Linked DNA regions of Homo sapiens: region 2 is linked to region 1. A link means that fine-mapping ties the variant in region 1 to the expression of a gene that starts in the linked region. Tissue or cell type: prefrontal cortex. Region 1 holds a variant in brackets; the other region holds the start of a gene. All regions are shown on one strand. Distances are from middle to middle.

The links. PIP is the estimated chance that this variant, and not a neighbour inherited with it, causes the effect.
Region 2: it holds the start of CHCHD6, and the variant in region 1 is fine-mapped to the expression of CHCHD6 in prefrontal cortex (GTEx, PIP above 0.99). The same link has a PIP of 0.9 or more in anterior cingulate cortex, caudate, cerebral cortex and nucleus accumbens.

What each region holds. Positions count from the first base shown.
Region 1 is chr3:126,957,003-126,965,105 of GRCh38, forward strand. CHCHD6 (coiled-coil-helix-coiled-coil-helix domain containing 6) reads left to right here. Exons shown (of 8, transcript NM_032343.3): 7 at 414-549; 8 at 3,194-3,418. The coding sequence ends at 3,199. Among named protein-coding and RNA genes, the nearest start is that of PLXNA1, 22 kb to the right of the region's middle. RefSeq lists enhancers at 2,908-3,455, 4,553-5,101, 5,102-5,648. The variant G/C (reference allele first, on the strand shown) is at 3,276.
Region 2 is chr3:126,700,804-126,708,906 of GRCh38, forward strand. It overlaps CHCHD6 (coiled-coil-helix-coiled-coil-helix domain containing 6), which reads left to right and starts at 3,437. Exons shown (of 8, transcript NM_032343.3): 1 at 3,437-3,596. The coding sequence starts at 3,510. RefSeq lists enhancers at 3,017-3,076, 4,137-4,688 and a silencer at 3,627-3,826.

The DNA.
Region 1 (8,103 bases):
TGGGGCGGGCTGTCTCAGGCATAAAGGGATGGCTATCCTGGGCACAGCGGGGCGGGTTGTCCTGGAGGCGGGCTGCACCATCCTCATGGGGGCCCTCCAGTGGGGCTTTCCTGTCTCCTGAGTGTACACAGGCCCCAGTGAAGGAGCCCGGTGTGGAGCCCCATACCACAGCATGTTTCAGTGTCTGCTATATTGTGAGCCTAAGCCACCCACCACAGGGCTTGACCCTGCGACCGTCCTCTCATTTCTAGAACGGGAAAGCACAGTGCTTCTCCTTGAGGGTTAAAAGGATGCTGCTGGGTGTCAGGGACTTAGCCTAGCGCCTGGGAGGTAGGTGGAGTGAATGTGAGTTGTTTCTCTCCCCTGCCTGCTGGCACCTGAGCCCCAGGCCTGCCTGCTCTTGTCTTCTGCAGGCCCCGCAGGGTGGAGCCCGTCTGCTCAGGGTTGCAGGCCCAGATTCTCCACTGCTACCGAGATCGCCCGCATGAGGTGCTGCTGTGCTCGGACCTGGTCAAGGCATACCAGCGCTGCGTGAGCGCCGCCCACAAGGTAAGGCCTTGCCTGCCTCCCAGGTTTCCAAGGGCCTTGGGAGGTAGGCGAGGTACCTCTATCTAGCATTGGAGATCTCTGCCTGCCTTTTCCTGTTAGAATCAGATGCTCCACTTGGAGGTCTCTGCATTTGCCAAGGGAGGGATTCTTCGCTTTCCTCAGTCACCTGCACACTCTCCTGGCTGCTTCCAGGAGCGCCTTGGACATCTGGCCCCAGGGAGATGATCCCTGTTGCGTTTGCCCTATTAGGCTGGGTGGGAGCAGGCTGGGTAAAGTCAGGCCCCACCTTCAAGGGCCGGGCCCCTTGTGGGTGCCGGGGACTTCTTAGCCCTCGGCACTTAGGGGTGGGAGGGTGGCAGAGGCCCGAGTGCAGAGTGGGGGTCCCAGCAAGGATAGGCCATCTGGAAGAGGAGTGGGAGCAGATGTGGCCATCAGAAGCTGCTCACAGCCACCCTGCCCTGAGCTGGTCTACAGGGGTGTGCTGGCTTGGCCTTCCTGGTGAGTGGTCCCAAGCCTCATGTGCTCTCTGGTCACCTCCCACTCCAGTGGGCCTCGGTTGTCCTGGATGCCTGTGATGCGCTCCCAGCCAGCTCCTACTGCCTTCCTCCCCCACCCCCAACTGCTGCTCTCTATCCTAGATAAGTCCTCCCCCTTCCCAGGTCCCGTAGCGTCCTCTGGTGCAGTCAGGCTGTTCCCAGCCATACCTCACCCTTGCCCCACCCCAACAGGACAGCTCCCACCTTGGGGAGCATCATTCACTCTCAGAACACCTAGTTTGGGCTCCCCAAGGAGTGCGGCCTGTTTGTGAAAATGTATGGGAGAAACAACAGGACGAGGTCTCCTTTCCCACGTAAAAGCCTCTTTGGCCTGAGTAGGAGACAGGCTGCTTTAGGTACTTGGGATGGAAAAGGCTGAGGCCAGATGCTCTGTGCTCTCCAGCCATGTCCAAGGGGAGATCTGTCCCACTGAACTGAGCGGGGTCCTGCAGCCCCAGGCCTGCAAGAGCTTCCTTGGGTCATGCCCTGCTCACACCCATCTGCCAAGGCTGATTGTTCCACTCTTTGCTGGTCACAGCCCCGTCCAGCACCGACTGTCCCTTCATGGCCAGAACACAGCCCAGAAGTAGCTCCACACAGGATGAGTGGTCGCAAGGCCTCTGTCAGCCTTCCAAGAGAGGGAAGCCCTGGGTAGGACAGGCGGCCTCCTCCTCCATCTCAGAGGATGGAAGGCTGCTCACTCTGCTTCCACGTGGGCAGGAGGCGCTGGGGCACTGGGTAGGCTGGGCCAGACCAGGGCCCTTCGCACCGACCAGACACTTAGCTCCCTACTCACCAGCAAAGTGAAGCCTCCAGATCCTCCACACACCCAATCAAGGGCAGCTCCGAGTCTCTGTTCATCACACACCTAACTCTTTACCGAGGGATCTGCTGCAGCCTCTTGGCTTCCTGGCAGGGCCTACGCCTCAGTGGCCAGCCCTAGACTCCATCCTCTCTCCATCCAGCCCCACCTCTGTGGTAGTTTTCAGCCCCTACCCACCACCCCTAAGAGTATTTCTTTAACAAACACACCTCACCAATATATCTTCCTCGCACCAAGGCAAAAATGTGATTACCAAGGAAGACAGATCACATTAAACCCCAGTGTATTCCCTGAGAGAGGCTCTGGGACACTGCCAGGTCTGGCTCCCTCCTTCCCGGCCCCTACCCCTGACATGACTAGCAAAGAAACCAGAGACTGAGCAATGGCAGTGCCAGAGGCCTGCCTGCTCTCCCCACGTGCTGCCTTGGCAGTGTGTGTGCATTTGGAGACGGCATATTCAACCTGACTCCCTCGGAGCCCCAGCACCCAGGCACTTGGGTGGTGCCCTGTGTGTGAGATGTGGCAAGTGCTGGAGAAACTCTCACCACCCTTCGCCAGCCTTCGCCTCAGAAGGCTGCTGGCAGAACCAGAGAGCGGGGAGTGAAGGGTCCCTAAGAGGGATTTGCTTATGCAAGGGGCCAAACAGCAGGGGACAGAGGCCCACATGGTCAAGGGCCTTGGGGTGGGGCAGCACTGCTTCTCTCTCCAGGATCTAACATCTGCCCTGGGGCTCCTAGGGCAGGTAGGTGATGCCTAGGCCCAGAGCCTGGCACCTGCCTGTGTGCAGATGTGCTGGGCATCTCAGATGAGGACAGGGGCCTCAGGCTGTCCACCACAGGACCCTGACTGTGCGGACCCCAGCATCCCAGCAGGCTCCTGCTGAGCTGTGAAAAATCAGAGAACAGAGGGGAGGCCTTGATGAGGCAGAGCAGAGTTGGGTTAGACTCTTCTATATCCAGGGTGCTTGTCAGAAACACCGCAGCAGGTTGAGGGGGCAGGGGCAGGGGACCTGCCTTCTGAGCCAGCCCTGGGAGAGTAAAGGAAAGGGGAGCGGGTTCTGGTGTCACTGTCGTGTGGAGTGAGGGCCCGTCCCCTGTTGCTGGGGACTGTGCTGGGCTCCGGGGTACAGAGGTGAAGAGACTCACTGATGGGTCTCCAGGTGAGGAGGGAGACCAACTCACAGCTGCTCCCTGGGAAGCGGTTGCTGTCACAGGGCGATCTGCACGGAGCTGGAGGGCATGGGCGGAGTGGGCCCTGACTCAACTCTGACCTGTTCTCTTTGTAGGGCTGAGGAGCAGACATCATTCCCTGCCCTGGCAGTGACTTGGAGCCCTGAAGAAGGGACCAATCATGGGACCACAGCCACT[G/C]TGCCCTGCCGTTTCCTGCTGGGCCCCTGCATATGCCCCTGAGCCTGGGGCTGCCACGTGTTTAGGAAACAAAGTATGCGCTACTGTCTGAAAACAAATAAAGCAGATGCCTTTGTTTTCAGTCGTTGACTCACTGGCAAACAGTCACTGCTGCCTACTCTGCGTCCAGCCCTCTGCTGGACACCAGCGAAGTGGAGCTGAGGAAGATGGGCTGCTCCCCTCGGGGAGTCCCTGGCCTGGCAGGGGAGATGGCCTGAGAACCCCTAATTACATTGCAGCAGCAGCAGCAGCAGCAGCAGGCTGCCGCGGAAACAGGGAGGAGAAGGAAAGGGAGCAGGCCTTTCTAGGGATGGCACAGAGGGAGAGCAGGCCAGCTTCCTGCAGCGAGTGCTGCCTGCGCCCGGGGCGGAAGCTGACCAGACGAGGGCAGGGCGGGCCGGAGACCCAGCAGAGGGGATCCCAGGTGTGAGGGCAGCAGGCAGTGGAGGAGAGCAAAGGTGGTCAAGGCAGGCAGGCGGCGCGGCTGCAGAGGCGGCAGGACTGCAGTGCAGCAGGCTGAGTTGGCACTGTCTCTGAGTGATGTTGCTCCGGCTGTCAGGTGGTGCCAGGGAGACAGGACTCGATGCCAGGGAACATCACCAGTGTGGAGGGCCCCGCACAGCTCAAGCCCAGGGCGGGTTAGTGGGGCTGATTGGCAGGACTGAAACCGACTGAGCGACAGAAGAGGCCAGGTGACTTTGAAGTCTCTGACTTGGGTGTTGGGGGTTCTAAAATAAGGAATGCAGGGATTGAGGAGGGCAGATGACAAAGTGGGTTTGGGACATGCTCTGCCTGGTTGGTGTCCAAACACTGGACTTCCAGTCCTTGTCCTTTAGCCACGTCCTCCAGCCAAGGTGCCCTGACCACACTCAGCCTGTACCACGCCAGCAGGAGGATTTTGGGTTGGAGCCTGGGATCCTCTAACTGCTCTGCCGGTGACCTTGGGTTTCCTGATAGAGCCCTTGGGGAGTCCCCATGCCATCTGGAGCTGAAAGCCTGCAGCCTTGACTCAGGCTTGGCAGCACAAACTTCCCTTCTCAGATTCTCACACTCAGAGCTCAAGGGGTGGGTTGGGGCTTGGGCGTGTCCTACTGGCTGGGCGGGTAGTATACTAGCAGCCAGACAGACAGCTTTGGGAGACTCCCTTTCTAGGAGTCCCGGGTCAGCCTGTGGAAATGCACAAGGAGACTCCATGTGGTGTGATGCGGCGAGGAGGGGTGGGGTGCACTGGGCACCCTGGCCTGAGCCCTTCAGGGAGGGGCCTACTAAGAGGAGGGGTGAGGGGTCACAGGTCAGGCCTATCCACCATGCTGTTCTGACTCCCTCAGAAGCATTTGGCTTCCAGGGCTTTGTCCAACTTCAGATCTCACAGGAATAACTTTCAGCTGTTCATCCTCTCCTCCAGGTGTCACTTTTGGGGGTTGGGGACGCATCCTGGGGTGGGAAACAGACTCCCAGGTACACAGACACCTGTGGGCTGGATGCTGTCTGAGCCTGTACCAGCTGGCTCTGTCTGGGTAACAAACCACCCCCAGACCTCGTAGCTTAAAACAACGCCCATTTTATGTGGCTCATGATTCTGCTGGGTGGAGCCTACGGCCCAGGCCCACTCATGTCAGCCAACAGACCTGTGACCTCAAATGGCCTCCTGTGTCCAGCGGCCAGCGGCCCCATGGTTTCTTCCAAATGGCCCCTCCTTCTCCAGGCTAGCTCAGGTTCCAGTTTCAGGCTCCAGCACAGCCAGAGAGCCAGCTTCCAGGGGCAAGCACTTCCTGATCCTCTGCCTGCAACCCCTGGTTCCTTCATTCCCTGGTAGCCAGTCTGGTCAGATTGCAGTTGGCCTGAGAGGAGTGAAAAGACCTCTTTGGCCTCTGAGCTCCACAAAGCCACCTCCTGCTTTGGGAATGAGGCCAGAACGAGGTCGGCAGTGGCAGTGGCGGGTAGCAGCAACAGCCCTTTCCTGCCTGGGCAGGGCCTGTGCAAAGAAGCATCCAGAGACAGAGGCTGGTAGAGCAGCCTCATGAGATGGCACCGTTGCCCGCACGTCACTGCATGATTGACTCAGACCAGGAGCTGATGAAGGTTTGAAGGCCAAAGAGCAGAGCTGGGAAGCAAGGCCACAGGTGTGGGAGGTGCAGGGCAGGGGCCATAAGGCTCTGTAGGGGCTCATGCAGAATCCAGGGCCCTTCCTTGAGGTCCCCCACTGCCTCTGGCTGGCCAGGTCTGCCTACCCCTCTCCCTCCTCCCCATAGTGTCCTTAGCCCTGGGCCTCCCACACCCCCAAATCCACACATCTGTCCCCAGATCTTGCTGGATTTTCATAAACTTCCACTTGGTCCTGAAAATAAGACTCACGCCTGACCCTGACCAGTCTGTCCACTTCCCACCTCCATGTCTGGCTCATGGCCCGCGCCTGAGGCTCTAGCCTCCTCCTCTTCCAGGCTCTGTGCGGGAGCTTCTGGTCTCCTTCCACATTACTCAAGGGTTAAGCCCTGTGTGAGTCCTCGCAGCCCTCCTCCTGGGTGCCCACCCAGCCCCGACACAGGCCTCCAACCCAAAGGCAACACAGTGTGTGCACAGCCTGCCAGCTTCTCAAGACCAGCCTGACGTGGGCTCCCATTAGCCACCCCTGTGGTCCCTGGTATAGGCAGGTAGGGAGTCGTTTGGGGACCAGGACTAGTGAATGAATGAGATGTAAGGACCATTACCAGCTTCTTCAGCATTTCCGGGCCTGCTGGCATCTCCCTGGAGTCCGGGTCTTGGCACCTCCTGTAGTGGGTTCAGGCAGGAAGGGAGCCCGGTGCACACAGGAAAATCCACAGGCTCTGCAGGCCTGGGGGCCTCAGTTTAAATCCTGACTCTGCCTCCTGTTGGTTGCCAAGAAAGGCCAGCAATTCCCTTAGGCCTGAGCCTCAGTTTCCTCATTACAGAACAACTAAAGCAGTGTCTAAGATTTATAGGGAACACCTGTGGCCCACTCTGCATCCACCCGTCTTCTTTTAGAAATAGCTTTTCAAGTTTTCTGAAGAACCACTCTCCCCAACTCTATCAACGATTCCTGTTCCCCCCTTCCCACCACCTTCACCTCCACACAGGGAGAGGGTTCTAGAGAGCAGAGCCAGCAGAGGCACACAGCCAAGGGATGGAGAGACTGTGCAAGGTCATTGAGCACCTGGATCCAGCCAGACCTGAAGTTAACATGAGCTAGCAAGTTTCCCTTTTTGTTTGAACTGGGTTTTTGTCATTTGCAACAGGACTTCTCTGTGAGAGAGCGTTGTTCTGGGAAGCAAATGATCTGCTGTCAGCGCCTGGCTTCCCTTTCCTTTGAGCCAAGTTGAGGTGGCAGGTTTGACTCTTCCCAGCCTGGGGAGGGGAGCACTGGCTTACACTGACTCTCCCCTCAGGGCAGCTTCAGAAGCTATCCCAGGCCCAGCTACAGACTCTGCCATAGGGACCACAGGGCAAGACTCAGGAATGGACTTTGTAACTGGAGAGGAGCAGACAGACGTGCTAGTGGCAAAGTCTGAGGCACTGATAGGGAGGTGGGGGAAGCGTTTTGGGATTTCTTCAACCAGACCAGTTGGAAGTGAGGCACCCACACACACCTCACCTGGTGAGCTCCTATCCATCCTTAGGGTCCCAGCTCCGACTTCCACCCCTCTGTGCCCCCACCCACAGCTACACACCTTTAGGTAGAGGCTGGAGGCTCCTGTGAGTGAGTCCCTACAGTCTTCACCTGAGGGGCTGGAGGCCAGGCCTGGGGGGCTCCAGTGGATGGGGCTCTACTCCCCAAACTCCAGCACCCCTGAAGGACCAGGGCATGTTCAACCATTTCTATCCACTTCTTTCTCCCTCATTGTTTTCTGGGGGCTTTGGATTGGGATGAGGGAACGAGCTCCTGACAGTGCACATGACATTGTGCATTCCTCTCCTTGGGTCTCGGTGTCCACCATGCAGGATGACTGTGCGAATGTGTGTGCATTCATGTGAACTGTGTGTCCAAGTACGCAAGTGTGTGTGTATGGGTCTGTGTGCACATGTCCATCCTGCGTGTGTATCCATGTGTGTGCACACGTGAGTGCATGGTGTGCCAGCACACATGTGCAAGCATGTGCATAGGTATGTGTGTGTGTACCTGTCCATTCACATGTGTTCATGTCTGTGCATGTGTACTTGAGTTTGTGCACAAGCAGCCAGCCATGCTCGGCACCTGCGGATCCTCACGGGCTCTTCCCAGCCTGGATATCATCTCATTTCTCCACTTTCTCAGAGCCAGATCTTTGCCCCTCCCCTGCTGGAGACTGTGTGTGTGCTGGAGCCATCTGTAACACTGCATTGGAATGTGAATGTGTGTGTGCTCTCATGTGTACCTACACCTCAGTACCTCCACGTGTGTGGTAGGAGGTCAGGTCTGAGAGAGAAATGCACAGGTGAGGGGTGTGTCCAGCAGGGTGTGCACCTGGAGGCGGGTGCTGCAGGCTCATGCCCTGGCTGAGTGACCCTTAAGCAGGAGTATTAATACTCATCCCACCAGTTGCTTGGTGATGACATTGGTTGTATCATTCAGGGTCCAACCAGGAAAACAGCACCCTTGCTTTTGAGCAGGGGGAGTTGAATGCAAGGGATTGGTCACAAAGGAGATGGAGGAACTGAAAACCCAGATGGGATAGTGTGAGAGGTAACTCAGATCAGCAGCCATAGGACCTCCCGCCACCTGGGGCTGCAGAGACAGAGGGAAGAGGCAAGATCACCCAATGGAAGCTGGCACCGCAGGGGCCCTGCACAGGGA
Region 2 (8,103 bases), 260 kb before region 1:
ACAGAAATAGGATTATTAGATTGTATTGACTTTTGGGGGAGTTGCCATACTCTCTCCCATAATGGCTCTACAAATTTATATTCCCACCAGCAGTGTGCAGGGTTCTCTTTTCTCTACATCCTCACCAACACTTCTCTTGTCTTTATTACAATACTGATTCTCACAGGTGTAAGGTGATATCTCACCATGGTTTTAATTTGCATTTCTCTGATGATTAGTGGTGTTGAGCGCTCTTCATATGCCTGTTAGCTATTCACATGTCTTCTTCAGAAAAATGTCTATTCAAGTCCTTTGCCCATTTTTAAATTGGGTATTTATTTTTGCTATTGAGTTGTGTGAGTTCCTTATAGAGTATATTTGGATATTAAGCACTTATCAGATATATGGTGCCCAAATATTTTCTCCCAGTCTGTAGGTTGCCTTTTCAGTTTGCTGCTTGTTTCCTCTTATGTGGAGAAGCTTTTTTAGTTTGATGTCATACCATTCGTTTATTTTTACTTTTGTTGTTTGTGCTTTTGGTGTTATAGCCAAAAAAATTATCATCAAGACCAATGATAAGAAGCTTTCCACCTATGTTTTCTTCTAGGAGTTTTGGGGTTTCAGATCTCACATTTAAGTCTTCAATTCATTTTGAATGGATTTTTTATGTGGTGTAATACAAGGGTCCAATTTCCTTCTTTTGAATGTGGATATCCCGTATTTCCAGCTCCAATTATTGAAGAGACTTTCCTTTCTCCATAGTGTGTATATTCTCGGCACCATTATCAAACATTAGTAGACCATATATGCATGGGCTCTCTATTTTTCTGCATTGATCTATGTATCTATTTTTATGCCAGTACCATACTCTTTTGATTACTACAGCTTTGTAATATAGTTTGAAATCAGGGAGTATGATGCCTTCAGCTTTCTGCTTCTTTCTCAAGATTGCTTTGATGATTTGGGGTCTTTTGTGGTTCCATATGAAATGTTAGAATTGTTTTTTCTATTTATGTGAAAAATGTCATTAGAATTTTGATAATGATGACATTGAATGTGTAGATTACTTTGGGTAGTAAAGCCATTTTAACAATATTAATTCTTCTGATCTATAAACACAGGCTATCTTTCTACTTATTTATGTCTCCTATAGTATCTTTCAACAGTGTCTTATAATTTTTAGTGTGCAATTTTTTGTGTGCATCTTTCTTTCACCTCCTTGGTTAAATTTATTCATATTTTATTCTTTTTGGTGTTATTGTAAGTGGGATCATTTTCTTAATTTCTTTTTGAATAGTTTGTTGTCAGAAATCAGTAATAGGAAGAACTTTGGAAAATTCACACATGTGCGGAAATTAAACAACACATTCCTGAACAGCCAATGAGCCAAAGAATAAATCAAAAGGGGAATAAACAAGTATCTTGAGACAAATGAAAATGGAAACACAAGGTACCACAACTTATAGGATGCAATAGAAACATTTTTAAGAGGGAAGTTTATAGCGAAAAATACCTACATTAAGAAAAAAGAAAGACATCAAACAACCTAATTTTATATCTCAAGGAACTAGAAGAGGAACAAACTAAGCCCCAAAGTCAGCAGACTGAAGGAAATAAAAAAGATGAGAGCAGAAATAGAAACTAGAAAAACAACAGAAAAGATCAACAGTAAAGATCAACAAAATTAACAAACCTTAGCTAGACTAACCAAGAAAAAAGGTAATTCACATAAACAAAAGTATAAATGAAAGAGGAGACATTACAACTGATATCACAGAAATACAAAAGATCATAATCAACTACTATGAACAATTATACACCAAGAAACTGGATAATTTAGGAGAAATGGACGAATTCCCAGAAACATACCATCTATCCAAACTGAGTCTTGAAGAAACAGAAAATCTGAACAGACCAATAACGAGTAAGGAGATTGAATTAGTAATCATAAACCTCCAAGGAAAAGAGACAAAGGAAAGCCCAGGACCAGGTCTGACCACATCTTTACTCAGTTTTCCCCGCGGCCCCCGGTCCCCACCCCTCTTAGCCTGTCTCCCTAACTTCCTTTCTCCTGAGGTGCTCCCCCAGGAAACTCCTTGCACCAGAATCCCCTACGCAGGCTCTGCTTATAGGGAAGAAATGGACGACAGAGGTGATGGAGTGGGGTGCGCCAATGAAGTATTTTGAATGAAACTAGCAGACACCTTTGTTCCTAAAGATTCCATCGTCACACCAGCTCTGGGATGTTTACTAGCTTCTTCACCCTGAGCTATTCTCAATCTCAGAGCCTTACTGCTCTCTCTCAATCATTCTCTCCTCCTCACCCCTTTCTTTCCAGGTTGCCAATAGGAGCTCCAAATATTTTCTGGCTATTTCATGTAGCCATCTAGTTTTCCTCAGCTCGGCTTCAGGCGCACTTTTGCAAATCAAAGCCATTCAGCAACTCAGAGGAACAAAAAGGGGCTTATTTGAAGGTAGCAGTGTCTATGACTGGCAACCGTCTGTGTGCTCCCTTACACATAGGGTCCTGTGTAAGAAGCCTACACACAATGCCTGGCACACTGCACTCCACACATGGTATGTACACTCCTTGGGCAATGCCTCCTAACGGCTTAGGACCATTCCCTGTCCTCCCGGGGCGTTTAGAATAAAACCCACACTCAGACCCTGCCTCACAAGACCCGACATGATTTGGGTCCTCACCACTCCTCTGCCCTCTTCTCACTTTCCAGCCATGGGATGACCCCTCTTTCTCTTTTCCTGCCTGAGACTCCCAGGAAACCTCTTCCCCTACCTTTTTCTACATAAATCCTACTCTCCCGCCGGCTCAGTTCAAAGCTTCTTCCTCAGAGGTTGCTCTGGCCACTGAAATTAAAAGAGGCCTCCTTCTGTTCATTTTACTAGTGGCATCGCCATGCAGTTTTCCGTGTATTACAGTCAGTTTCCTTGCGTGCGTGTTTGGCTTTTCACTTGTTTTCCCCTTGCACTGTAAACCTCTCAAGGGCAGGACACTCGCTGTCTTGAGGGGCGCTGTAATGCCAGGGCCAGGTCCCTGCTCGTCTGGCGCTCAGCCCGTGCTGCTCTACACGTGTTTGCTGAATGAATGGAGCAGTGAACCCTCAGAAATTCGCCTCCAGATGAGCGCCTTGGCCGTCTCGGCGTCTCCTGGCCTCAGAACATCACCCTTGGCTCTCCCTCAAGGGGGAGCTCCCAAAGCGAGAACGTGACCCTGTCCTGCACCCAGCCCTCCACTCCAGGGCCTCCGCCGGTACACATCTTCGGCCTCAGCCTAACGCACTCTAGCAGGCACAGACCGCCACGCCCCCACCCCTCCAGACGGAAGGACTGCAATCCCCACAAGGCACCGCGACTCAGCGCCACCCGATTGGTGAAGCCTCTGGCGTCGGCCAATAGGACGTGGCTTTGTTGGCGTGTGCCGCGGCCGCGCGAGTCCTGGAAAGCGTTGTTGGCCCGGTTGCTCTGGAGCCGGGTCTCGGGTCTGGTGGCTGCCGGCCCTGCGGCATCTCGCCATGGGGAGCACGGAGAGCAGCGAGGGCCGCAGGGTGTCCTTCGGAGTGGACGAGGAGGAGCGGGTCCGGGTGCTGCAGGGTGTCCGGGTGAGCGGCGCCGCCTGGGCCGGGGCGGGCGTGGAGGCCGCGGGCGCGGGGGGGAGGTGCGGGGCGGAGCGCAGGGCCGGGGCTCTTTCCACGCGTGAGGGGCGTGGGGCTTGGGAGACTCCGGGGGCTCAGGCCAGGAAGAGGCTGAGCCGAGACGCGAGCCCGAGGCTGGCAGCCTTGGAGCTTCGCGACATGGGCTTCAGGGAAGGAGGAGTGAAGAACTGTACAGGTGCGAGGCCCCTGGGACACGAGGGACGCCCTGGCCACGTCCTGGCTCCGGTCGGCTTAGTTTTTACGTTTCTTGAATTTGCGCCCGGCCTCCCAGCCCGTGGCCCCTCAGGTGCGCGCATCTCGTTCTGGGTACGCGGTGTCTCCCACCTGGGCTTTGCCTGGGGACTCAGCTCTTCCCCGCCGGCCTGTTCTCCACAGCACATCTGCGGGGCGCAGGAAGAACCATAGCTCAGATCTGATCCCCTTCCTTGCCTGAAACCCTCCAGTGGGTTCCTAGCGCGCTTGGATGATGCCTTCCCTGGTTCCAAAGCTGGCCGCTGCCCGTCGACCTCTGGGGACTGCATCCCTCTGGGACTGCATCTCGTGCCATTTCCCTCGCGTGGCACCCGCACCTCGTCCCCAGCCTCAGGACCGCCGTGTTTTCCTGGAGGGTGCCGCTGGCTCAGCTCAGGGTCTGTGCGCCGGCTGTTCTCTCTCCTTCAGCTCTCCTTAAATCCCGCTGTTTCTTGTAATTCTTGTTGTAATTCAGATATCACCAGAGAATCCTTCCCTGACCACCCAATCTGAAGTAACCTCCCACCCCGCGTCCAACATTTATTATTTTCATAGCACTCATCACAGTGATCGCTTCTGTTGATAATTGTTTACTTGTTTATTGCGTTTACTGCTAGAGTGTAAGCTTTTTGAGGCTAAGGTTCCTGTCTGATTGAAGACTGTCCCCAGAACCCAGAAGAATAAAAGCAGCTCTTATTGCAGTGTAGGGGCCATGCGTTGGACTAAACCCTTTATAAGTTAACTGATTTAATTTTCAACAGCCCTATTTAGCCCATTATTGTAGATTAAGGAGAAGTGAGGCACTGAGAGGTGAACGAACTGATCCAAGATCATGTAAATAGTAAGTGGGAGAGCTGGGATTGAAACAAGCCAATTCCAGGGCATGTTGCTGTGCTCGGCCTCTTCCTCCACCTGTGTCTACACCTGCAGGTGCTTTGTAAGTAACTGTGGAGAGATGAATGAACCCAGTAAAAGGGACTAGGATTAAATGAAACGCACAGAGCTGGGTGTAGATGAATTAGTTAATTAAGGAGGAATTAGGGAGGTGGCTTAGAAAGACAGACTTCAGGAGTTCTGGCAGGTGCTCATTAGCTGTGTGACCTTGGGTAAAAAACTCTTTTGAGCCTCAATGGCCACATTAAAAAAAAAATTGGGTGTGTATGTATCCTAGGTACTGCCTAGGATAAGATGATGTCTGTGAAAGTGTTAAGGAAACGCACAGAGAGAGTGCTTTGTGGAGGCCTCTCTTCTTAGCCTAGCAGAGTACTTGGCACATTTGGTGCTTGCTAGGCGTTGTATAGTTTTGTGGACCTCACTCGTGGCAAGGATTAAATGGGGGAGGAGATGGCTTGTGTTGGAAGGCCGAGAGGGAGGAACCTGAATTGGAATTTAGAAAGATAAGCTTGGCTCTGTTTGGGTGCTCTCACCCTTGTGATTTGGTCTCCTGTTTTGGGGAATGTTGGAAAGTTAAGTTGGAGTCCTCAGAGGTTCAGGGGAGTGCCTTTGGGGGTGCCTTCTTTCAAGTTGATTGGAAACCTCATGTTTTTTGAGTATTATATAAGACAGGTACATTTCATTTCTAGTTCTCTTAAATACTTCTGCAACATATAAATTCTCTGTATTTAAAGATGGAGAATTGAGCTTAAAGGAGTTAAGGAATTTGCCCAAGGTGTTAACCTGAGTAACTTCTGGGACTTTAATTAAGATCTTTTCGGTGCAAAAAGCAACTTTTTCTCACTTCTGCAATTCCCCCCCATGATGTATGCAAGGCAGCCTGAAAATTTTGTGACAATACCCATACCTGTCCTGACAGGGATGATAGTGCCCCACTTAGTTTTAAAACTGGAAGGAACTTTGGTGACTGACTGCTTTCTTTTCCAGCTGGGCAAACTAATCAGAGAGGATAAATGACTTGTCCAGAGGTGCACAGTAAGGTGCACAGCCCCACGTTATGAGAGCCACGTCCTTCCTTCTGCTTGTGTTTGAAAGAGGAAAACTGAAGAAAGGAGGTGATGGTATGAAGAAAGGATGTTTTGGTGTAGAGGCTTTTTCTGTTAGCAGAGTTACTTGAGGGTTGAGGAATTCACCTTGTCTTTAGGCAAGTGAGTGAAAAAGATTGCCAGATCAACAAAACAGTTGCCAAAGGGAACAAATCAGTTCATTTAATGAGAAGCAGATGCCAAAGAAGATCTGCCCCAGCTTCTTTAGAGCAAGTTGAATATTCTTAATGACCATTTGTATTTAATTCCTGAGGCCTGGTCTTAGAAAGTGTTCTCGTCCCTGTAAGATTAAGTGTTAGTGGCTGGTAGTGGTGGCTCATGCCTGTAATTTCAGCACTTTGGGAGGCCGAAGTGGGCAGATCACCTGAGGTCAGGAGTTAAAGACCAGTCTGGCCAACATGGTGAAACCCTGCCTCTACCAAAAATACAAAAGTTAGCTGGGCATGGTGGCACACACCTGTACACCCAGCTACTTGGGAGGCTGAGGTAGGAGAATCCTTGAACCCAGGAGGGGGAGGTTGCAGTGAGCCGAGATTATGCCAGTGTCCTCCAGCCTGGGTGACAGAGACTCCGTCTTAAAAAAAAAAAAAAAAAAGATTAAGTGCTAGGCCTTGCTAGTTTACATACTTAGTTTGCATAAATTCACAAAGTGTGTTCAAACCGTAATTCCATGGAAGGTAAAAGAAATTTAATGAATGCAAAATGCTGCAGTTATATTCAACTCCAGTTTTCAGAGCAAATGTGTGAAATACGTAAAGATTTTGTTTTAACCAGTACATTTAACCTCATCCTTCAGTAAGAGAAGGCACACATGGCAGTCATGGCGCATATGTGTCTGCCTTCCCTCTCCTCCTCTCCACATGAGCCGCCCTTTTTGGTGATTCAGCTGATGTTGGTTGCTTGTGAGCATCCAGACTGCTCACTGTTCACCAGCCTTTCCCCCTTTCCCACCACTGAGCCCACCCCTGTTCCAGTCACTTGCATGTTCCCAGAGTCATTATCCCCTCCAGGCTTGATCAACTTTACCGTCATGCATTGCTCCCATGAGGCTGATTCTGGACCACGGTGGAGGGGAAGATCAAGAAGAATGTGGTCAGACACACAAGAGAGTCCCCCATTGTGCCAGTGCCAGAGAGGCCGTGTGCCAGAGCGCTGCACCTGCAACTGCCAGTTATTCCTCACCTCAGTGAATGTCCACTGCCTTCATGTTACTTGCCCAGCACTGGGCCTGGCCTTGCTGAGACAATGAGGGACAAAGCCGAGGACCCTGTCATCATAGAGACCTCAGCCCAGTAGGGAGAATGGACCAGAAAGGAAGAGACACAGGCAAAAGACTCAAAGAGCTGCCAGAGCTAAGGAGGAAACAAAAAGGGTGCAAAAGCTACTGGGGCTGCCTGCTTGAGGTGGGATGGTCAGGCAGTGCCTCTCAGGAGGAGATGTTGACTGTGGCCTGAGCCAGCCCTATGAAGAGTGCATATTCACTCTGTGCTAAGCACTCTGCCAAGTGTATTCAGAGCATCACCCCAGAAATTCCACATGCTTACCTTGTGAGGGGTCATTATCCCCATCTCAGAAGTGAGGAAACAGGTTCAGTGAGGTGAAGTAACCCAAGGTCACAGTGCTGGAACCTCAGGGTCTCTGACTCCATAGCCCATGTGCTTGGCAGCCACAAGGAGGGTAGGATGCTTGAGGATGTGGCAGGTGGTGAGGCCAGACTCAGGGCCCAAATGCCAGGCAGGGCTGTGAACATGTTATTCTGGAGGCCACGCTGCAGTTCTCTGGTCAGGAGCAGAGCTTTGGAAAGGTTCTGTCTGGTGACACTGATTTTTCTTTAAAAACAAAAACCAACAGTTGTAAGCCAGGTGCAGTGGTATGTACCTGTAGTCCCAGCTACATGGGAGGCTGAGGCAGGAGGATCACCTGAGCCCAGTGGTTCGAGTCCAGTGTAGCAAGACCCCATCTCTTGAAAAAAAAAAAAAAAAAGCTTTATTGGGATGCATCATTTTACATATTATAAAATTCACCCATTTCAATGCTTTTTAGTAAACTGTGGTGACAGAATTGGACAACTGTCACCACAATCCAATTATAGAACATTTACAAGACCTAAAAAGATGCCTTGACCTGTTTGCAGTCACTCCCCATTCCCACTCCCAGTCCCAGGTAACCATTAATCCTGTTTCTCTATAAATTTACCTTCTCTGGACATTTCGTAGATAGTC